Linked DNA regions of Homo sapiens: region 2 is linked to region 1. The links come from fine-mapping of genetic effects on gene expression. A gene starts in region 1. The other region holds a variant in brackets. All regions are shown on one strand. Distances are from middle to middle.

Evidence for each region. PIP is the estimated chance that this variant, and not a neighbour inherited with it, causes the effect.
Region 2: its variant is fine-mapped to the expression of MITA1 in whole blood (TOPMed, PIP 0.99).

Annotation. Positions count from the first base shown.
Region 1 is chr8:78,799,474-78,811,552 of GRCh38, forward strand. MITA1 (metabolism induced tumor activator 1) reads left to right here and starts at 4,999. Exons shown (of 3, transcript XR_002956715.2): 1 at 4,999-6,222. IL7 (interleukin 7) reads right to left here and starts at 5,990. Exons shown (of 6, transcript NM_000880.4): 1 at 5,440-5,990. The coding sequence starts at 5,449.
Region 2 is chr8:78,842,027-78,854,105 of GRCh38, forward strand. The region is part of intron 1 of MITA1 (metabolism induced tumor activator 1); the gene reads left to right. Among named protein-coding and RNA genes, the nearest start is that of LINC02605, 11 kb to the left of the region's middle. The variant T/A (reference allele first, on the strand shown) is at 7,590.

The DNA of each region.
Region 1 (12,079 bases):
TAAGAGAAACAAAAATTGATAATTTTATTTATACAAATATATTAATAACTCTGCCACTAAGTGCCTATATGCATGATGAGCATGAATTAACTTAGGAGACAGATAATGATGATGATGCTAGTTACCTTTAGTTGAGTACCTACCATGTGTCAGGAACTTTATATATAAAATCTCATATATATATATATGATTTATAAATATCCAAAAAGTTCTGCAAGTTAGTCTTTCTGTAACACATACATAGTAGGTGCCAGGTTTGGATGCTAACCTGAATTTGTTGCTTTACCAGGATTCGATTAGAAATGGCCATAATCTATTGATAACATGTAATCACATTTGTCTTCTGAATGAAGTTTTGCCTCTCTCTTCTACTCCTGTTCCTTCAACCTAAAGATCCTCAGTGATCAATTGCTAATTTAAAAAAAATATTTTGGCAATTAAAAAAATGTACACTCATAGATTTAAGGGGGACCAGAGCAGATTTCTTACTAATACATATTTAATATACTGTACAGTGGTGAAGTCTGGGCTTTAGTGTATCTATCACCTGAATAGTGAACATGGTACCCAATAGGTAATTTTTCAATCCTTATCCCCCTCCTACTCTCCCACCTTTCAAAGTCTCCAATGCCTATTATTCCACCCTGTATGTCCATCTGTACCACTGTTTAGCTCCCAGTTATAAGTAAAAACATGCAGCATTTGACTTTCTGAGTCATTTCACTTAGATAATGGCCTCAAGTTTCATCCATTTTGCTGCAAAAGACGACTTAACTCTTATGGCTGAGTAGTATTCCATGGTATACATATACCACATTTTCTTTTTTTCTCCCTCTCTTTTTGAGACAGGGTTTCACTCTGCTGCCCAGGCTGGAGTGCAGTGGCATGATCATAGCTCACTGAAGCCTCAAATTCCTAGGTTCAAGCGATCCTCCTACCTCAGCGTTCTGAGTAGCTAGGACTACAGGGTGCCCCACCATGCCCAGCTAATTTTTTAAAATTTGTTTTTAGCAGACGGCTCTTACTCTTTTGTACAGACTGGTCTTGAACTCCTGGGCTCAAGCAATCTTCCTGCCTCAGCCTCCTTAAGTGTCAGAATTACAAGCTGTAATTACAAGCCCGGCCATACCACATTTTCTTTATCCAAACCTCTGCTGATGGACATTTGGATGATCAATTGCTAATTATTCACCAGATTCTGACCTTGTAATCAGATTTGTATAGATTGTATGAAATCATACTTTTTATTTTCTCTGTCATCTTACAGGGGTCCAAAAGGTATACTTCGGGAGGAGTAGATGATAGAGGAAAAATTATATAACATATAACTTGAAATGAGCTTAAAGGAGAATATAATAAAATAATTAAATGCTAGAGTGAAAGGGATACTTTTACCATTATCATAAATATTCCAAAGGTCCACCTTTTGTTTTAATACATGAGGTTGTTTTACTTGCTATGAGCATTAGCTGTCTTCTTCACCTCAATTTTCAGTAGTTAAGTGCTCCTCAAATTTAAATCAACCTATTTATTCACCGGATGGCATTTTGTGCATTCTTTCCAATGAGGGTTGCTGGAAAATTCAGTCTTTTTGTATATTACACGTACTTTCTCAATTTTAAAACATAATTTGCCTTGCCTGTTAAGAGTGTTTTCTGTTGCCATTGTTGTCATTGAATAATTAGCCCCAGACAGACTATGGCAATATAAAGCACAGAGGTTTTGGAATTAAAATTCTCATAATAATAATTATAATGCATGGCTTCCTGCAGTTTGTTTCAAGAGATTTCACTAGAAGCTTGTTCCATTAAGAGTGCACATAATGTTACTCTTTACCCTTTGTCTATGCCATTTCTTTTGAGAGTTGAAGTAGTTGAGGATCTACTATGTGGTCTCCAACTGTCTTATCTGGTTTGGGTAATTTCATCATATTTGAGGACCAAAAAGTTGAATAGCAATAAAAACAGACTCTACTTGGGAGGCTGAGGCAGGAGGATTGTTTGAGCCTGGAAGTCAAGGCTGCCATGAGCCATGATCTTACCGTGAGCCATGGCCGTAAGCCATGGCCGTGAGCCACGATCTACTGAGCCTAGGCTGAGTAGTCAAGTCAAAACTTGAGACTTTTGACTTGCCAAGACAATGGTTTGTGTGACTGTGTAAATGACACAGCATCTCTTAAGGTCACTTACCTGATTTCTAAAATGAAAACTTCAGACTAAATGATCTTTTTCATCTTGCAGACACCTTATTCTAAGAATCTACCTGGTCCTCCAAATGCAGAAACTCTTTAGATCTGAAATTGCCTCACGGACAATGCTGCAAACATACCTAGGGCCTTGGACCCACATCTCATAGGTTCCCAGCTCTCCCATTAATGATGTAGCTTGGTAGTTTGGTCCATAATTGAAGACCTTTCTCCTACATCACATAGAGAGTAACATATTAAGAATGGCTGGTTTGAGAGTGCTTTTGGCATTGTTGTCACACCCACACTCCCCACCATCCTGAACTTTTCATTAGGTTACCGAAAAGATAAACCATAGGAATAACGCAAGGCAAGCGTGGCTTGTGGGATTGCCCTTACTTCCCCTGAAGAGGCTGAAATTGGAGAATTTGTTTTCAGTAGGGAATTTGGTTAAACCAGAAGGAGGTCTGTCTAAAAATTCTTGTTGGTTTTTAATGTAAGCCAAATAATACATTCAATCCTCAGCTGCTTAAGTTATGGGGGTCAAAGTTAACATAAATAGTTTTCTACAATCCATCAACTCCAGTCTTTATCAGTCTTTAAAACCAGTGTTTACTGAATGTCCATTGCATAGACCTATTTTCACTGATAATTTAATTCCATAACCACTTCATGAAGAAGTAGGTAAGTACTACAAGTTATTCACATTTATAGATGGAGAATCTGGGGCACAAAGACAGTCATGTAGGAAAATTCCTTTCGTATTTTTCTCTCTCTTTTTTTTTTTTTTGATATGGAGTCTCATTCTATCATCTAGGCTGGAGTGCAATGGTGCGATCACGGCTCACTGCAACCTCAGCCTCCCAGGTTCAAGTGATTCTCCTCCCTCAGCCTCCTGAGTAGCTGGGATTATAGGTGCCCACCACAACGCCTGGCAAATTTTTTTGTATTTTTAGTTGAGACGAGGTTTCACCATGTTGGCCAGCCTGGTCTCGAACTCCTGACCTAAGGTGATCTGCCCACCTCAGCCTCCCCAAGTGTTGGGATTACAGGCTTGAGCCACCATGCCTAGTCAGAAAATTCCTGTACATAATATAGATATGGAATTCAAATCCAAGACTGTCACATTGAAGAGTCTAGAACCTCAGCTTTTAGGCACTGAACTACATTGCTTCCTTAAAAAATAACCATATATGTGTAGTCAAGGGGATTGCATAAAAACCCATCTTCCTGTGCATGAACCTCACTAAGGTACTTCCTGGCCAAACTGTGAAACTGCATCATATGCTTTTATTTCAGAAAAAGAGACTAAATATTTGTTCTTGTTACAGTAGGTTATGTGTCAGGGTTAAAAGCAGAAAAAAAAGTCACATAGATGAGTGTGAATATGACACGTAAGTTCGTTCTATGAAATGGCCTTTTCCATTTTTTAAAAAAATATTCAAACACTAACGTGATGCAGTTTGTAATTCTCCTTTATGCTTGTTCAGGGTTTCTAATATTAGTTCTCTATTATTATTTTTTGAGACAGGGCATCACTCTGTTGCCTAGGCTGGAGGACAGTGGTAAGATCATGGCTCACGGCAGCCTTGACTTCCAGGCTCAAGCAATCCTCCTGCCTCAGCCTCCCGAGTAGAGTCTATTTTTATTGCTATTCAACTTTTTGGTCCTCAAATATGATGAAATTACCCAAACCAGATAAGACAGTTGGAGACCACATAGTAGATCCTCAACTACTTCAACTCTCAAAAGAAATGGCAAAGACAAAGGGTAAAGAGTAACATTATGTGCACTCTTAATGGAACAAGCTTCTAGTGAAATTTCTTGAAACAAACTTCAGGAAGCCATGCATTATAATCATTATTATTAGAATTTTAATATTTTGTCTGCTAATGAAAACTTATAGCCCATGATTCATATAACTGTGCTTCAGGAAGTAAAGGCTTTTTCTGAAAAATGCACACGCTAGCTTCCTTTTCTCAGTTTACCTTTCTACTTTAGAGCAGAGGTGTTGCAAGGATTAGAACCAAGGGTGATCCAGAAGAAGAAACTGCAGAACTATGGGCATTGCAAGGAAAATAGGGTTGTGCTCAATTTTTAGTTTTGTATTAAGCTCCGGGAGGACATTCCTTAGAAGTCCTCCATAATTACGTTGGCTATTCTTTCCGCTCTCTCTATCTTTGTTTTGTTACTGAGCTGGCACTCCTTGGTTGTGTCAATTCTTGATTCTTTACCCACGAGAGTGGAAAGAAGTCTTGATCTAACGGAGTAGCCATCAAAAGAAAGAGCAGTCAGTTTCCTATTCCCGCACCCTCCCCCCAGCTGTCTTCTTGCTTGAGGAAGTACTTACTGTAAAGCATTCCAATTTTCCTAAGCAGATCTTTTCCCCTCACAATCCTTTTTCCTCTTTTTTAATTCCAGTAAGTTTTTTGGCTCTTTCATTGGTCATATATGACTGCCATCCGAATCCAACCCTCCTGAATTCTGTCCCTGTCCATTCTAAATCCGTATTCTGCACAAATAAGATATATTAGGTCTCAATACTGGTCTGGAAGTTAGAGTCACGCCTATTTCATTCTGCCTCCATCAAGAAGCGCCCGTAGGAAAAAATAACAACAAAAACAAAAACAAAAACAAAAAAACCCAGAAGCTGGCCTTCCTCAGCGCCAGCCCCAGGACTGGTTTCCCAGCAATAGGCGCAAGGTACAGCCCTTGCCGGAAACTCCCAGTCTTACTCAGGGGGGAAAAATGGGGTTTTCCGGAGACCTGTTCCCCTAGGGTTTAAAAGCGCGTCCCGTGGGAGCTTCGCTTTCACTTCTCTAGGGAGTTCTGAGCTGCAAGAGCCCAGCTACTCGCCGAACCCGGGCCGCCTGCGTGAGTAACTTGGGGCGGCCAGGAGCACGGGAAGGGCGCCAGACAGAGAGCCTTTGGCTGCTTCTGAGACCGGCTGTGGGCTGCCACCGCTGAGCGGCGCGGAGGCTGCAGCGTTCCCTCTCAGGACAGAAAGCAGGCGTTGGGGACTGTTACTCGCAGCCTGCCAGGGGCAGCAGCCGCCCCAGGTTCAAGTGGCTATGTGCCAGGATACTCAGGCGCGGCTGTTGGCTGCCCATGGGAGAGCCAGTGCTCTCCGCAGGTCCAAAGTGCAAGGCCGGGCTATTCCCGGACTTGCCTAGGAGCAGGGGCCCCCAGCGCGTCTGGGATTGCCCCGGCGCGTCGGGCGCGCGAACTTGTGCGCAAGGGAGAAGAGCGCTTACCATGGAACATGGTCTGCGGGAGGCGGGCGTAGTCATGATGACCGCAACTGGAGCAGGAGCAAGCTCTCACCGCCCATAGTCACTCCCAGGACCCTGGTCTTCCGCGGAGTTGCCGAGTCTGTGTTGGGCAGGGTGATCTCTGCAGCTGGTTCCTCTTACCCACGCCGCGACTGCAGTTTCATCCATCCCAAGGGGGGCGGCACACACTACGGCGTGGCTCTGCGCTTTGCCTTTTCCATAACTTCCGTAGGATCCGCCAGCAGTGTACTTTCAGTTTCTACTTTGCGCTTGGTCTGCAGGTTCAATCTTTGGGATCATCAGCATGGAATCTTCATTATCCCCTCTCTCCTGGGCACCTGCTTCCCGCGCACCTGGATGAGGACCAGAGGAATTCGCGAATTTCCGAATCACCGCAGGAAAAACCAGCTGGCCTGAATCAAAGCAATTCTGGGTAAAAGACTTCCCAGATGATCTCTCAACGCCTTGGCAACGCTTGGCGACTGGGAGCTAGAACCATGAGTTGTTAATGTGTGCACGGAAGCCACAAGTGTGCAGGACGCAAGCTGGGTTATTGGAAGCGGACGACACCAAGGAGGCGTTGCCGCGGATGTGGTGGACGATGCCAAGTCGTCTTTTAAAAAAGGAAGTGAAGAATGATTAAGAGGGTCACGCCCTCTACCACTCCAACCTCTCTAATCAGTCTCTTTCTGCTCCGTCTGCTGTACATGCACCTGCTCAGGTGAGACCTCAAGGAAAAATAATCCTGTGGGTCCACCTAATCTGGTAAGTGTTGTATTTGGAAAATCAAACCCCAAATTAAACGCAGGACGTGGAAACTGACGATAATATTTAACTATGACTTCCACGTGCACATTTATCTGAATTGGCTAATAAATCAAACTATTCGTCTTGAATGCATGCCACTGAAATGTTAACTTTTTCCTGGGCTTGAATTATGTAGCTTATTTGCTACATTAGTTTGGTTTCTGCTATTCTGCAGAAACCCTGCTTAGATGAAGGTGGATAATGTAAACCAGTAACAACAGCGATAATAATAACGACTATCATTTATCTAGCATTTGCTCTCTGCCAGTTTTGTGCTAAGCATTTTATGTATATCATCTCATGCAAAACTTTGTGTGAGGTAGACCATTTTCTTATCTGCACTTTACAGATGTGGGGACTGAGACTTCCTTAAGTAACTTTCCAAATTTCACTTAGCTAACTGAGCTTAGACACAGACTTGCTGCATTTGGGCTGTAGAAACTCCTGCTTGGAACTCCTGTGAATAAAGTAATAATGTGCACACTGATGCCGGGAGGGAGATGACAGTACGTGTGTGGCTTTGCCCCAGTGTGGGGACTTCAGGAAAGTTTCCTGGAGTCTGTGACTTCTAAACTGACACTTGAAGAGGAATGAACTTGGGGCTGGTAAGGAGTATGTCACATTCTGCTATAGCGTGAACAAGGAAGAGGAGGGAAGGAGAAAGGAAAAAAAAGGATGGCAATGAACTAGGGAGAACAGAGTTGCTCAAGCCTGAAACTTGGGTCTCTGATTCCTTTTTTGGTCTCATTTCCCACATCAAATCCATAGACAAGTCCTGTCTGCCCCACCTCCAAAATTAACCCTAAGGTGACTATAGAGACTGTCTAAGGGATCTTCCAGCTTTCACTTTTGCCCACAACCCCTTCATTCTTCTCAGAGCAGCAGGATATCTGATTCTATTTTGTGCCCCACCTTCTGGTCACTTCCCACTGGGTACCAGGCCCTCAGTGCCCTGGTGATCTGGGCCCCACTGCCCTCTCTGACGTTTCGTGGTACCACATCACTATCCTCCAGCCACAATGGCCTTTCTCTTCCTGCCCAGCGTCCACTTACTATGGTCTTTAGCCCATGGCTGGCATTCAGTAAGTACTGGGGGGTGACAGAGTAAGAGAGAACAGGTGAGTGGGAATGCATCAGTGAATATGTGTGAAAGAGAAAGTTCATGAAAGCAGAAGGAAATAGAATGAAAGAGGAAGCGAAGGGGGTAAGCAAATGGAAAAGAGAGACAGAATGGAGTGAGAAAAGCCACATATTTCCATTTGACTGGAACCTAGAGTGGGAGGTGGGGAGGAGGACAGACATGACACTGGAGTGAGTTTTAAAAATGATTTCTATAATGAAACACGCCTAGGTTGGGGATTTATTTATTTATTTATTTATTTATTTATTTATTTATTTATTTTAAATCCCTGACAGCAGCATTGAAGTATGTAACTGTTCATAGCCTGCACCTTTTTCTTTTTTTAACTTTCCAGGAACAAAGTAAAAGAGCATCCATCAATACTTTGCACAAAAGGAAATCCGTCTTCCTTTTATCACAATCACCATAAATCCAGGTAGAATAAGGGTTGTACATATCTGAACTTTTGGGAAGCATGAAAGGAAGTTATTCAGAGCTGCAGGAAAGGCAATGTAAATGTTACACTGGATTCTGCCCCCAACTATAAAGAATCTTTCTGAAGAGAATATTCATAAAGCTTTGGGAATTGTTAGGGTTATATGAAATGGGCACATTCTAACAACATCAAGTAATGATTTTTTTTTTCTGTCTGTGAGATAATTAATACCATTTAGAAAAAAATCCAAAATGAAGTCTTAAATTAGCTTTTGATATTTTGATAAACTGAATATTATTTTTTATAAGATAGATGGACAAGAATAAAATGTTTATAAATTTTTAAAATGCTAATGTTTTATGATTAAAGAAATGGAATGGTTACTATTATGTTTGCTCATAGACTCAATGAACTGGACAGAAAAGCCTTTAAGGGAGAAAATAGTAAATACATTTTATGAATTATGGTAAATAAATTTTAAAAGAGAAGACAACATTCTCAGAATGATCAATATAATGTATTAGAAGAAGTTCAAATAAAATTATATGATGTCAATTTAAAGAGAAAATTATTGAACATTAACCAATATCTTTTAATGTTCTACAGTCTTCAGTCAGAATAGTCAATTATTGTAAACCAGAAAATATTTTTTGATTAATATCTGAACTATTTTTACCCAACTTAATATGACTACTTTTTGTAGTCTGTGATATGAATTCTATCTATCATTCTATCTATGGGTAGTATGAAGTTCTTTTTATTTAACTTTCCAGTAATAACATTCAACATATTTAAAACACACACACAGCGCCACACAGCCAACATTATGGATATATGATCTGTGTAATTGGCACAGGGCCTTGTACTTCATTTGATGCTCTGCTGTCACTGTATTGAAATTCCTCATTTTTAGATAAAGGGACTCTTATTTTCATTTTGCACTGGGTTTCAAAATTCTATAATGGTCATGCACACTCACACATGTTAAGTTACACATTGTGGATAGCAGTGTATGTCTTTGAGGTGATTTCAGTTTGGTGGGAAAAACAGATGTTAAATATCTAATTTCAAAGATGAAAAATATCATTAAAAGAGAAACATGATATATTATTTGAATCAGAAGTTTAAAGTAGTATAGGCCCATTTTCATAGTTAAATGAGGATCAATAAAGGTTAATTTATCTGTCCAATAAACAAGCAGCTATGAGAGGATGACCTGTAATTTGATAAAATTTAAATTTTACCAAATGACTAATGAGCGTCTATTTACATGGTCATGGTTTTTTTGCTGAATTCCTAAATAAACCATAAATTTAACATAATGCAACGTTCAAATTGGTAATATTTAACCTAGAATTTTACAGTTATAGTCATAATTGGGTTATGTTTATTTTTAATTTTATATTCAACTGATACTGGGCTAGTTTTGTCCAGTTATGCTAGTTTCATAAAATAAATTGGAAATTCTATTGTTTTCTAAAACTGTCAACTGTTAAACATGTGAACTATTTGTTTCTGGCAGACTTACTAGAGTTCAACAATAAAACTTACTTGATTCCGTGGATGAAGCCCAGGAATAGGACGAGACTGTCAGTTTTGAGCATTACAAGTGAGAAAATGAAGAAGGGTTTATTTTGAAGGCTGAATCAAAATAGCCATGTCAGACTGTCAGAACTTTGCTGGAGATGGGTATGTTAGCATATCAGTGATGGCCAGAGCCATGGAAATGAATGCAATTACTCAACCTGCATGTTAGAAGACAGAAGAGAGAACTAATGCTAGCAGGAATCTTGAGGCATGAGCAACCCTAAAAAGTAGCTGGAGAAAGGGGTGCCCATCAACAAAACAGACGAATACATAGTAGGCAGCAAAGTGGGAAAGTCAGAAGTCAGTGTCTCAGAAGGCAACGGAAAATAGAATTTCAAGATAGAGTAAGTAGCCAGTATTTCCAAATGTCACAAAGAGGTTGAATAAGATAGAGACTGAAAAGTGTGTCTATTAAATTTGGCAGAGCAGAGATTGTCCATGATCCTCATGGCAACAGTTTGAGAAGAGCAGTGTAGATGCAAATAATATACTAGCTTGCAGGGGTTGAGAGAAGAAAGAAATAAAGTAAGAGAATATAACTTTTACAAAATGTTTGGTAATAATAAAAGGGATAGGGTAATGATTTGAAAGGCATGGAAGTTTTTATTTTCAATTATTAGAAACACTTGAGCATATTTATATATTAATGGATAAAATTAGGTTCTGCAGAACGGGGAAAGCATGGAACCAAGAAACCCAAGATACTCTGTTGATTTCTTTTCTTATTTTCTCTCCATTTCTCCCTCCTCTTTAATTTCAGTCCCAAAATTCTATAATTCTAAACAATCAGAATCCACTCTCTATCTGGGGTCTAAATTTATGTTCCTTACTGAAATGTTCCCATCGGCACTCATCTAATTCTGGATTGAGTATTGGCTTGTCTAAGAAAGAAGTCTAATATTTCCCAAATCGCCTTTCAGAGAGGGCCGCTGTAGCTTTTACATAGATTTGCATTATCCAATCCCTTTATATGCTAATGTTGCATTGTTGGCAATCAGGGCTTTCTTTTATATACAGTCTTGCATCATTTAACAATATATTCCGAGAAATGATAAATTAACCTTTGCTTACTCTAACTATTTTTACTTTATAAACTTTTATTTTTTTCCAACTTTTTGACTCTTGTCATAACATTTAGCTTAAAACACAAACACATTGTACAGCTGTTGAAAATATTTTCTTTCTTTATATCCTTATTCTATATGCTTTTTTCTTACTTTTTAAACTTTTTTGTTAGAAACTAAGACACAAACACACATATTAGCTTAGGCCTACACGGGGTCAGGATCATCATCACTGTCTTCCATCTCCACATCTTGTCCCACTGGAAGGTGTTCAGGGACAATAACATGCATGGAGCTGTCATTTCCTATGATAGCAATGCCTTCTCCTGGAATACCTCTTGAAGGAGCTGCCCGGGCTGTTTTACTGTTAACTTTTTTTTTAATAAGTAGAAGGAGTACAATCTAAAATAATGATAAAAGTATAGTAAAAGCATAAACCAATAACATAATTGTTTATTATCAGGTGTTGGGTGCTGTACAGTATTGCATGTGGTATACTTTTATAGGACTGGCAGTGCAGTAGGTTTGTTTATGCCAGCATCACCACAAACACATGAGTAATTGGTTGTGCTAAGTTGTTACAATGGCTACAATGTCACTAGGTGACAGACATTTTTCAGCTCCATTGTAATCTTAGACCACTGTCCTGCAGGCAGTTCTTTGTTATACAGTGCATGACTGTACTAGATTTTGGAGGGACTATGCTTTCAACCACTGCCTTTATAGAAGATTAATTAGAAAAGAATACACCTACAACAAATTTCTTCATGCAAACTGAAAAAAATGTAAACATATTTTGTTTAAATCACTGGATAGATTCCCTTTATATGATCCAGTTACTATATGAAGATGTCAACTTGTTCTTATGAGCTCTTGGAGAGCAGTTACTATCTTTTTCAACCTGGAATTCTCTGTAGTCAACAGAATATGTTTCAGTTTACAAATTCTACCCATGTATGACTTGTGGAAAAGGGAGACATCAGACTGCACAAGTCTTGACTCGCTGTTATTACACAGAACCATATCTGAGCGAACTTGTGTTCACATCCAAGAATGTTACAAAACCAACTACTGATTGATATTGATATATCTAAAGTTGTGACAAGCTTGTTAAAATTTTAATATTTAATATAGATTTAGACTTCTTTTCCTAATATGGAAGGCTGTCTAATATGGAAGCCTTCTAATATTTAATATAGATTTTAGATTTCTTTTCCTAATATGGAAGTCTTCCTAATATGGAAGGCTGTCTTGTTGAAATCCTTTTATTTTTAGATTAGAAATTAATCCAATCTACCTTTCCTTCAGGCAAGCCAGGTTTGATGCAAGCCAGGTTTGGTTCAAGCCAGGTTTGTCTTTGCCTTAGACTATTATTGGACTCTTAGTACATCCATTAACTCATATACAATGTAAAATGATTAGGTTTATTGCAACAGTAATGACATCATAATCTAGAAATATAGTGTATGTCCCTGAGTTTCTGGGGTATCAGTCATTTTTCTATGTCAATAACGTGTCAATTAACTGGCATCCTACAAGCCTGGAACTACCATTAATGTTTTCTCCAAATAATTTAATATGTTATCTGGCAATGACATATATATTTCA
Region 2 (12,079 bases), 43 kb after region 1:
GCAAAAACGATATTTTGTGCATTAAATACAAGTTTTCCAAATATTGACAGAGTTATATTTCTAAACTTAGTGCACAAACCATTTTTAAACATCTTGTTCTATTTTTCCAATTTTATCTTTTTGAAGATTATTAATTATCTACTATGTTTCAGGTATAGCCCTAAGCAGTGGGGATAAATCAGTGAACAAATCAGCAAATATTTGTGCCTTTATGGGGCTTCTATTCTGGTATGGGGAGATAGACAATGAAACTTAATAAATGATTAAGTTGCATGGTATTTAAGAAGGTTACAAGTACTATGAAGAAAAATAAAGCAACATAAGGTGGCTAGGGAATAACCAGAGGGTTAAAGGTTGCAGTGAGGATTCTGGAGTTAACTGAAAGTAGAGTCATAAGAATTTGTTAACAGATTGGGTGTAGGATGTAGAACAGCAAGTGCAAAGGCCCTGAGATAAAAAAAAATTTCCTCATTTATTTCAATAACACCAGGAAATCCATTGTGGCTGAAGAAGAAAGATCAAGGGGAAGAGAATTAGCAGAGGAGATCAGAAGGGTAATGGTGGGGCCAGAAAAGTAGGACTTTGTCGGCAATTGTAAGAATTTGAGGGGGTAGGTATTTATGGCACTGGTTTAAGCAGAAGAGTGACACGATATTACACTTTAAACTGATCACTCTGGTTGCGTTGCTGAGAACAAGCTGGAGTGTGTAAATGGTGAAAGCAGGAAAACCAGTCTGGAAAATGGTGTGATAATCCAGGTAATAGAAGTTAGTGCTTATTCCAGGGTAGTAACAGTGAGGATATTAGGAAGAGGCCAGATCCTATGATTATTTGAAGGTAGGGTAACCAGAATTTGTTATTAGATTGGATGTAGGGTGTGAAGAACAAGGGGGAGTCAAGGATTAGTCCAAGGTTTTATATGTCAGCACCTGAGTGATGATAATTTTATTAACGGAGATGAGAAAGGGGAGCGGCATTTGGGAGAGAAGAAAATGTTTGTTTGGATATGTTCATCCAACGTGTAGGTGTCATTTTAGACCTTCAGGTATATGGATGTGGCATTCAGAGGAGAATTGTGAGCTACAGATAGAAATTTGAAGGTTGTCTGTGACTGGGTGATGTTGAAAACTATGAGTCAGGATAAAATGACCAATGCAGTGAAAGTAATTAGAGGAGAAGCTAAAGGACCGAGCTGTGGCGCACTTGGGCATTAAAAGGTCTAGGAGAAGAGGAAGGGCTTACACCGGAAACTGAATAGAAATAACCAGTAGGAGAGGAAGAAAATAAGGAGCTTGTCTTGAAAGCCAAGTAATGAGCCATTTTAAATGTTTCTAGGTAATCAAATAAGGTGAAAGCTAAGAACCTGCCAGTGGTTTAGCAATATGGAGGTCACTGAAGACTTTGATCTAGCCATGGTTCAGCAGAGTGACAGGAGTAGGAGAAAGGGAGGATATGAAGGTACAAGGAGCAGAGAAATGAATGTGTTTCATTTAAAAAATTAGTTTCAGCTGGGCAAGGTGGCTCACGCCTGTGATCCTAGCACTTTGGGAGGCCAAGGAGGGCGGATCACCAGAGGTCAGGAGTTCGAGATGAGCCTGGCCAACATGGTGAAACCCCATCTCTACTAAAAATACAAAATTAGCTGGGCCTGGTGGCGTGCACCTGTAATCCCAGCTACTCGGGAGCCCGAGGCAAGAGAATCACTTGAACCTGGGAGATGGAGGTTGCAGTGAGCCAAGTTCGTGTCATTGCACTACAGCCTGGGCAAAAACAGTGAAACTCCACCTCAAAAAAAAAAAAGAAAGAAAGAAAGAAAGAAAGAAAGAAAAAAGTGTTTCATATGGTAGAAGTAACAGTACACTTGTATGCTGATGGAAATGATAACATATAGAGATGGGGAAATTGATGTTGCAGGAGAAAGAAGAGAGATTTGGGGAGCTGGTTCCTTGAATAGGTTAACCGTAACCTAAGGCAACATAGTGAATAATTGAGGAGTTGCCCTTGGGTAAGAATGCAGGCAGTTTATCTATAACAAAGGAAAACAGAGTGAAGGTAGTTACTAGGTGCAAATATAATGATGAGAGCTTGTTAGAGTGTCTTCTGTTGCTTCAGTTTATTTATATATATTTTTTTGAACAAAGTAGAAAGCAGAGCCATTGGGTGAGAGTGACAATAGAAGAGGTGTTGAGCATGAGGAGGGAGAAAGACATTTATGAAAATAGTCATCCAGAGAATGGATTAGATAATCAGCACATGCAAGTAATGTAGAGGTGGGGCTGCATGACGGGTGTCCTTCTGACCATTGTTGCTCAGGGTAGTTCAGTACTTCCAGGCTGGTCAAAAATTAGTAGAGTTCTGCTCTTAGTCTCTCTCCTCTTCTGCCTCTGCTTCCCAAGGAGTTCAGCCAGAACCTCTGTCTCTTTCCCTGCCTAAACTGAGCTGCTTGCACTCCTGTGATTTATATACCATCCTTGTCTCCAGTTGTTCACACTTTGTAACTTACTGTTATTAGTTATTATATTAAAAATTAATGCTGTCCATGGAGGTTATGATTGGCTAAGCTTGGATATATAACTAGATTTAAAAGAAGGAACTGTTATCTCTGAATCAAGTTTGTGGATTGGAATTATGGAAACATGATTATAAGTTAATGTAACCATTTTAAAATAAGCAATAGATAGCATCTGGCCATAAAGACCTTTTATTCTGGATATTTAATGAATGGGCAAGAAGGATATATACTTTTGTGAATGTGTAGGAAATGTCTTCTTTACATATTTCTGTTCTTTGGTGAACAGGAAAGAAAGTGAGGGCTAGAGGAGCCCCCAGAAAGTGGAGCATTTTCCCATTTTTACTTATATCAACTTAGCAGAAAATAAATGCCTTATGGCTGTAGCGGAATAGTCAGTACCAGATGAGCGAAGCTAAATGCAAGAATTTGCAGTGCCAAGCTCCACCGAATCCCTAAACAGCCACTGACCGATCTTGATTCCAAGTTCAACGTATTAGTGTGAGTTGAATGAGTGTTTCATTAATACTCTAAAATCTAAGTCAAATTGAACAAAGATCATGAATAGCTAAGAATTACTCTTGTAAGTATAATGAGGAGTAGAACGGGTAAGAGAAGTCAGGAAAAAATAAAGAAACTGTGGACTCAAAGTCAGAAGTCCTGAGTTTTAAACATGGTTTTGCCATTGACTAGAAACCTTAAACAAATCCTGTAACCAGTAAAGCCCTGAACTTCTTATTTGAAAATGCAGGCTTGAGTTAGATGTCTTCTAAAGACTCTTTTAGCACTAAAAAGTAATTCTATGAAGTTAATCTTTATTAAATTGTCTTATCTATTAAAATATAATGATAAAATATCTTGATGTTTATCTTAATGTATTTAGTTTTTTAGTTTTTAAAGAAAATAGGTCTTTAGTTTTTGATAATTAATATGTTTTGTTTTTGTTAATAAAATTAACACTTTAAAAAAATACAGAAATCTAAACAATAAGAAAGTGAAGGAAGAAAGCACATCCAGTCCTATGTCTCCCTAGTAATGTTTGATGTTTGTAAGGCTACCATATAACAGTTGCTATTGTGAATGAAATATCTTTGTTTTATTTTAACTAGTTGTTTCCTTATTATAGAAAAGCTACCTTTAAAAATACTAATTTCTCAACTGATTGTCTTTGCTGAACTCTCTAAGTTACTTTTAGTCAATATTCTTGTTTTCTTTATGTAGCAAACTATTTTGTCTACAAATAAAATTTAACAAATTTTGAGTCTTTATCATATAATGCCTCCTTTTGATTGTTTATACTTAATATTCTTAGAAAACATTTTTCAGTGATTCCTTTGGCTAGCTTTCCTAGAAGAATATTATTAGTAATGGTGAGAGAGAAAATTTCTGGCTGTTAGTTTAAGCTTTTTTTTTCTTTAAAAAATATGCTAAAGGTCTTTATTAAGAAGTTTTAAAAAAAGTTGAATAGGCATTTGATGACTTTTTAGAACATATGGTGACTACAGATTCTTTTCCTCAGTCTATTTGTGGGAGAAATTATATTAACAAATCTTTTAGCATTAAACCATTTTTATGTTCTGCAATGAACATCAGTTGGTCATTAATAGAATTTCAGTACAGCAATGGATTACAAATATTAACATCTTATTACTAATTTTTGCTGTTAAATTTATGTTGAAATGGGTCTGGGGTTTTATTATTTGTAGGTTGTTTTGGTTGAGTTTTGCTTCGGGGTTACATGAATTTTGTATAAAATCATGTGAAGCCTTCCTTCTTCCTCTGAGCTCATAGAAGTAAACTCTTCCCTGAAATCTGAAAGAATTCTTCTACAACATTTTGTTGTTCTATAATAGCTCTGTCAGTTTTCTTTTATTATTGATTTATTTTGGTCCACTTATATTTTTCCACAAAAAAATGTCTTTCAAACAGATTTTTAAACTTATATGAACAGGGTTGAATACTTTACACAGAGTTAATAACTTTCCTGGGAACTTGAAAAATGGAGAATTATCTGTATATGATAGCTTATATTATTGTACAGCTTTATAATTACCTTGACACTACAGTTTCTCCTTAAAATTTTATCCTCTTTCCTGAAATAAATCTATTTGCAAAGAATACGCCTAATCTATGTTTCACATGCTGTGCTTTCTGCCATATTTTTAAAACATTTTTTTTTTTTGCTTGTACTCATCTTTGAATAAAGACTGTACAAGACAGCTTTTGTTCCTAAAATAACATGGATAGATCATTCATGGTTTCTCCTGTTTACCTGGCTGCCATTTTAATTCATCCTTCAAATTTAAATATAAATTCAGTCATGCTGCACCTGGGCAGGTAGGAAAAGAGCTATGGCCATGCAAAGCTTTATTTCTGCATTTTTTCTCTATATATTTGCTAGGAAAGAATGCACCAAATTTCAGTTCTAGTGTGTTGTGTGAGATCTAGTGTGTGTGGGTTGGTGGAGGGAGCTAGGAGGAGAAGAGGGGAGTGGGTTGTGTGTGGCCTGCGTTGAAGGTACTAAGGAGTATGCCTTTGATTTTGGATTATTCAGGTATGTTAACTAGATAGATTATAAGTCAGGTTGGTTAAAAGCCCTGGGGCCTGTGGGCTTTCAGCGTGCTGAAGCTACATTTTTTCTCCCATTTCTTGAGTAATAACTTTTACATCTGTGAAAATTGCTCAATCTTGCTTCAAAAGTCTCTAGATTCTGAGGATCCCTTTCCCACTGCCATGTTGGAGAAAATAGTTACTTTTAAGAAAAGTGGAATCAATGAAGAAACAAACAATAACAATATACGGAGGAGTGGTTGTTCATTTTTCTGAGTTTGATTAGCTTGGGGCAGCGACAGTCTATGGCAGAGACCCATTTCCCCCAAAGCTGTCTGTGCTTCCAGCCAGTTCTCCAATTACTTACTGTTAGTGAGAAGTGTCAGAATTTGCTCTAATTACTTCCCTGAAAACTGCACATTTTCAGGAAGGGAAGTTGCATATCAATCTTCGATGTTTTTCTTCACGCTGATTCAAATTTACTGTATCTAGCAGAGATTCCTGCCAGAAAGTTGTGATACACGGTAAGTGTCCCTTATCTGAAATGCTTGGGACCTCAGTGTTACAGAGTTCAGGTTTTCTTCTGGATTTTGAAATATTTGAATATACATAATGAGATATATTGGGGATGGGACCTGAGTCTAAACACAAAATTCATTGATGTTTCATATACACCCCATGACCCTCGTCTGAAGGTAATTTTATACATTATTCTTAATAATTTTGTACATGAAACAAATTCGTGTACATTAAGTCATCAGCAAGCAAAGGTGTCACTATCTCAGCCACTCATGTGGACAATCTGTGGTTGTTTGGTATAACTGTCATGATGTGCTCAGAAAAGATACATTGCAGCAGAAGCAGGTGGGGGGGGGGTCTTTTTTCTCTTGGGGATGCTTGGTAAACTGTGTGCTGTGTGTCTGTGCTTTGACTGTGACCCATCACATGAGGTCAGGTGTGAAATTTTCCACTCGTGGTGTCATGTCACTGCTCAAAATTTTCAGATTTTGGAGCATTATGGATTTTGAATTTTTGGATTAGGGATGCTCAATCTGTGTATCATTGGCAGTATTTATTGGTTTAAGAATTGATGAACATTTTGTTTCTCATTTGTATTTATTTTTAGTTATCTCTCTCAGTTTCTCAGAGGAATCCTTTATAAGAAATTCTCACAAGAAGTAACCTATTTTTTTCTTTTATATAAAAACAAGTGAGTAAAACATCTATAGGGCGCTTGATTATTTGAACCCTGAGACAGTTAACATTTCAAGTAGCAGTTCTCAAAATATGTTCTACAGAAGTCGGTTCCAAATCGTGTTAACAGCATTTATAGGAGCAAAAGTTTCCATGGTCAAAAAAATGTTAATAACAGAAGTGAAACAATATTAAACATGATTCTTTACTGAAGGACGTTTTTTTCAGATAGGGAGCTTGGTTGTTAATTTTTGTTGTTGTTGTTTTTTAACCTTTATTTTAGGTTTGGAGTTACATATGAAGATTTGTTACATAGGTAAACAGGTGTCACGTGGGTTTGTTTGACATATTATTTCATCATCCAGGTATTCAGCCCAGGACCCAGTAGTTGTCTTTTCTGCTCCTCTCCCTCCTCCCACCCTCCACCCTCAAATAGACCCCAGTGTCTGTTGCTTCTTACTGAAAGACTTTTCAGCACCATGAATATGCAAAAGAACACTGTGAACTTACAAGACAGACATAATATGCAGTATTTCCTAGAACTTATTTAATTTAGTGCCCTTATTTTTTCTATAAATTATCAGAAAGGAAAAATAAATTAGTATAACAAACACCAAAAACTACTGGTATAACAGCATCATTTCGCAATTATAGGTGAAGCAGTTAAGAAGAAATAAAAAGTCTTCTAAATGTTAGCCTTGCAAATTTAATTATAAAAGTAATCCCTCCCTCCCTTTTCCTGTATCTGTGCAGCAAATATTTGGCCCATGCTTAATTCATGATCCCATAAATGTGTGAAAGGAAATTGTAATACGAGGGAAATGATATGTTCACCTGCTACTTTATAAGGATATTGTGAGAATTGAATGAAAAATGCACGTAAAGTGCTATAAAAATCCCATCACTTTACAATGAAACCTATAGACCAACACTTTTAAAACATGCTCTTTTAACATAGGATGTGTGGTGAGTCATTGTGAGAATATGTTGCAAATTACTAATATTTCTAAGTTTGTGATATTATATGGTTTTTAAAAATACAAAATGTAACGTGTTCTAGGTTATGTTTATTATGATGTCATTGTCACTGATTTCTGACATATTCTCTCAAGTGGGAGGAAAGGGAAAAAGTTTTAAGTACTCTGTTGGAAATTGACCTGGGAATGGAATGTCTCTGGTGTTGCTATTTAGCATATGCTGTGATTTGAACGTGTCCCCCAAAGTTCACTTGTTAGAAACAATCCCGATGCAATGGTGTTGAGAGGTGGGACCTTTAAGGTAAAACTAGGCCATGAGGGATCTGCCTTCCTGTGTGGCTTAACACCATTATTGCAGG[T/A]GAGTATTCCTGATCAAAGGATGTGGTTGGCCTCCTTTCCTCTCTCTCACCTGAGTGCTCTTTTGCTCTCCTGCCGTAGGATGATGCAGCAAGAGGGCTCTCACCAGGTGCCAGCCTCTTGATCTTGGATTTCTCAACCTCCAGAACTTTAAGAAAATATATTTCTGTTTATTACAAATTATTCAGTCTTAGATATTCTGTTATAGAAGCACAGAATGAACTAAGACAGCATATGAGCTGTAGCCCATAAAGGTTCTGAATTAAAGCAGCAGAACCCTCCACCTTGAAGCAGCAAACATTCACAATTTTGATAAATCAAGAGCAACCCCCTAATTGCCCAATGTGGTGACTGGTAATATTGCTGACACATGGCTTTGAGTCACATGTGTTGTGAGGCTGCAAAGTAGGATGTGTCACTTGGCTTTTGGCAGATAATATGATTTAGGAGAAAGTCTGAAGTTTATACCAGTTGTCCTGATGAAGGCACTCATTTGGCTACTATATTTTTCTGTGAATAGAATATGAACATTTGTAGAAGACAATTTTTGTTTGCATAAGTTCATGTTAACAGAAACCATTAGGCCACATGTTCCACAGAAGGGTTTTTTTTTTTTTAGGGGCTAAAGAATTTTTTATATTGGAAAAGTTATAAGGTAGCTGAAACGTAGGCCTGTGAGGATGAAATCAGACAATACTGAAAAATAGATGTGAACACACATATGCACACATCTACTGCGGAGATGCCAATCTCAGTATTTAAAGGCATAAAGGCACACTGACTTTTCTACTTAGCTGTGTTTTAGCAAACTTTGTGATTAAGGGCAGACTTGCTCTACACTTTGACTAACCTAAGTGCATCTAGCCAGAAAAAGAAGGGCATTGTGCCTACGTATTAGCAGCCCATTACATTAAACTGTGACATGGCACAACCCCTTTGGACAGATTTCATTAGGGCATACTCTCTTGCAGACATCAGAAATACAAAGCCAAGTAGAACTTTGTATGCTAATTCTCCATTGTATGCTAATTCTCCATTGTCCCTTATTTATTTTGATTGGCAGATATTCTTTTATATACACTAAAAATATCAAAATGTTGACAGAATCTTGTTGTTTCACACTTTCTCTTTGGAAAACATGTTGCAACAAAGCACCTTTTACCTACGTCTACCAAGTGCTATTGCATTGACAGTTTGACTAGCTATTTGGGAGTGAGCCCTGCCAATGGCTGCTTCAGGATTTAGCACATTTTGTTTGAAAAACATTTGGTCATGATAGTCAGAATCTCAGGAAGACCCACAGATTCTATTTAGCACACAGTGTATCTGATAGGACTACTGCATTAATGGAAATGAAAAGCTAATTGCTGTTAATATGTAATGTACATGGGATTTACAGTTTGTAGAATGTTTTTCTCATACTAACTCTCAATGTTGTTGTGGTAGAAATAACTTGGAGTTATATGCTTGGATGCAGGTATCCCAACTGAATCTTTGGCATTAGGCTGGCTGAGGTCTTGTTGGAATCTGGGGATTCAGCCAGAGTCGGGTTGAGAACACTGACCTTACTGTCAAAACTACCCCATTGGAGGGTATGACCGGAAGGAGTTGTGACTGGAGTAACTGGAATACTGAATCCCTCTCATTCCTAACTCTGGAGGTGTGCACACCAAGTGATACCACCCTACAAGTGAGGGCACAAAAAGTGTGATTCACAGCATGGTTGGAAAGGTGGCCAGGCTGTCAGTCTTTCCTAGAGAGCTAAACCTTGATAGCAGGACCCTCATCCTATGGTACTGACTCAAAAAGAAAAGGACTGACCTACATATGGTCTCTGGACTCAGGCACACGACCCAGAGTTCAGAAAAGCCTTCAAATCCTAGCGGGAAACAAAGTGTTAGGCAAAGGGACAGGGCAGACTATGGAGTGGAAGTCAGCATTTCAGGAGAAAATCAGGTCCTGTGCTTACAGGATCAATCACCAGGGCTTGGCCATGGCAAAGCACTTCCTGGCATCATTGTGTAAGTACTCAGTCCTATGTAGTAATGGTAGAGGGCTATAGACAATGACAAGACCTGATCCAGTTAAAGGGCAGAGGCTGCACATTAGGATTCCCCCAGGAGATTTTAGGGTTAAGAAGTGTATCACTGAAATACTTCATTCTGCTTGCTACTCTGCAGAAGAATTGATAGAAGAATTAGGTAAAACAAAAAGTTGTTGAGACACATTTGTTGTAATAATGGAAATGTTATTATGTAGTATCTTCATTGTTCTTGATGCCCTGTTTGTTTGTTGTTTGTTATACTTTGGAATATATGTTATACTTTGTACTGTTTGTGAGTCCTAGGATGTTTTCTCAATTTCCATTTTACTTTCTAGAATTTAATTTTAAAATTTTGCACTATTTAAAAACATACAATTTGTTTCTAAGGAATTTGCCTTCTCTGCTTGTTTTTGCCAGGTTGTTTCCAAACACATTAACTACTATTGTGACAATAAACACGAGTCAGAGTTGAATAAAAAGAATTCTTTTTATCATCATCATCATCATCAATCACTGTCATCACTATACCATGATGTCTATCATATTAAAAATAAGAAGGCTTTCGTAGTCTACAGGAAGTAATTTCAATGTAGATCATAGCTTTATATTTTATTTAAAAGTTCTTGGTATTACTAATATGAAAATTATATTTTATTCAACCACCAGAGGGAGCTCTCAAATATATGGATTCTAAAAGGGAAGGAGTAAAGTAATTAAGTAGGCAGCTTTGTATGTTTTATAGTTGAAAATCAAAGATTTCATCAGCTGTGTGTCATGGTTTTTGTGGGATCACATGTTGTGTCTTCGTACATCAAGTGCTTAAAATCTTGTCCTACTATAGATGCCACATCATTTTAATTAACAGCTATGAAATAATAATCTTGTTTTTATGTTTTTTTTTAAGTTTGAGTAATTGTTTTATTTTAACTTTATATTTTAATTTTGGACAATATTGATTGATGCCATGCTTTGCAAATATAATTATGCTTTCAGACCTCCTCTCTTAGGTCCCAGTTTTTCTTAAGTTGTGTTTTTATATTGTCCAATTTATAAAACTTATATTCTTTTTTATAACCGTAAATTCAATGCTGAGACATCTCCTTTTCATATTTCTTTGTTTTGATGTATTGCTTAACTTGCTAAATTTTATTGTCAAATAGTTTATTTGAGAAGGGTCTTTGGGTTCTAGAATCCTTGATATCTTTCATGTTTGAGAATGACTACTTGTTGCTTTACACATGTATGACAATAGAGTGGGTATAATATTGTGAGGTCATATTTTCTTTCTCTCATCTATGATTTAATATTCCCCCTAGGAAAATCAAGTCTTCCAATTTTTTTTCACTAATATTATGTGGGTGTGGAAGGGGAAGGAAGGAAATTATCCAACTGTTTCCTGCAGGCAGAGCAAGTCCTTACAGAGCAGGCTGCCCTCAGTGATGATGAGTTTTGGATCTCCCAGAACATCCCACCTCTTAAATGTGTAGCGTCTTGTAAGTATCCTTCCCAATCAAGTTTATTCATAGCTTACTGAGTTCTGTCTCTCCTTCTCTGTTAAATGGCTTTATTGAGATATAATTCATAAATAAAAAAACTGCACGTTTGATATGTGCAGTTTGATGTGTTTGGATCTATGTATACATTGGCAATACTATCACCACAATCAAGATAATAAACATATCCATCATCTCCAAAAGTTTCCCTGTGTCTCCTCAACTCCATACTTTTTTGTGTTAAAAGCACTTAGCAGGACGATCTGGGGAGGAGCAGTCCCTGGGATCACTGTGTTTATCTGTTGTCTCTGTACCCCACTTTAAAGTGTCCGAAAGTTTTCTCACACAGTAATGTAATCAACCCCATTTTGTGGCTGTGGAAATTGTCAGGCACAAAGGTTAAGCAAATTAGCCAAGGCCATGAAGCAGATGAGTGAGACACCTGGGAGTGGATCCAGGACTCACAACTGCTCAGTTGATATATTGCCTTCCATTGCTTCACAAGGCTGCGAGCTGTCCTGCTTCTTCCCAACACACTTGACTGAAGTCAGGTATTTAAGTTTCTATATCTAAGCTGAAGTCAACAGTATTTCCATAAGTAGGATCTTGTCACAACAGAAAAAATGAATTATAAGCAATGAATAGAGGTGAAATATATTCATTCAGAGTCAGTGTGAATACATTCCATCTTTCTTCACTTCCTTTAACCTCTCATTTTCTCCAGGCTGCTTACAAATGTATTCAATGTGTTAACAAAAAAATTTAATAAAGACATTGCCAGAATATCAGCATTGGGAACAAAGAAAAATACTTTCTATTTGGTGTTAGCATAACTGTGCATTTTAACTAGGTGTATATCTCTCTGTGTATAATTAACATGCTATTTGTAAATAAAGTCAAATATTAAATATATGAAGTCACCATTTTGATTTATGTTTTTCTACAAAGCACAACC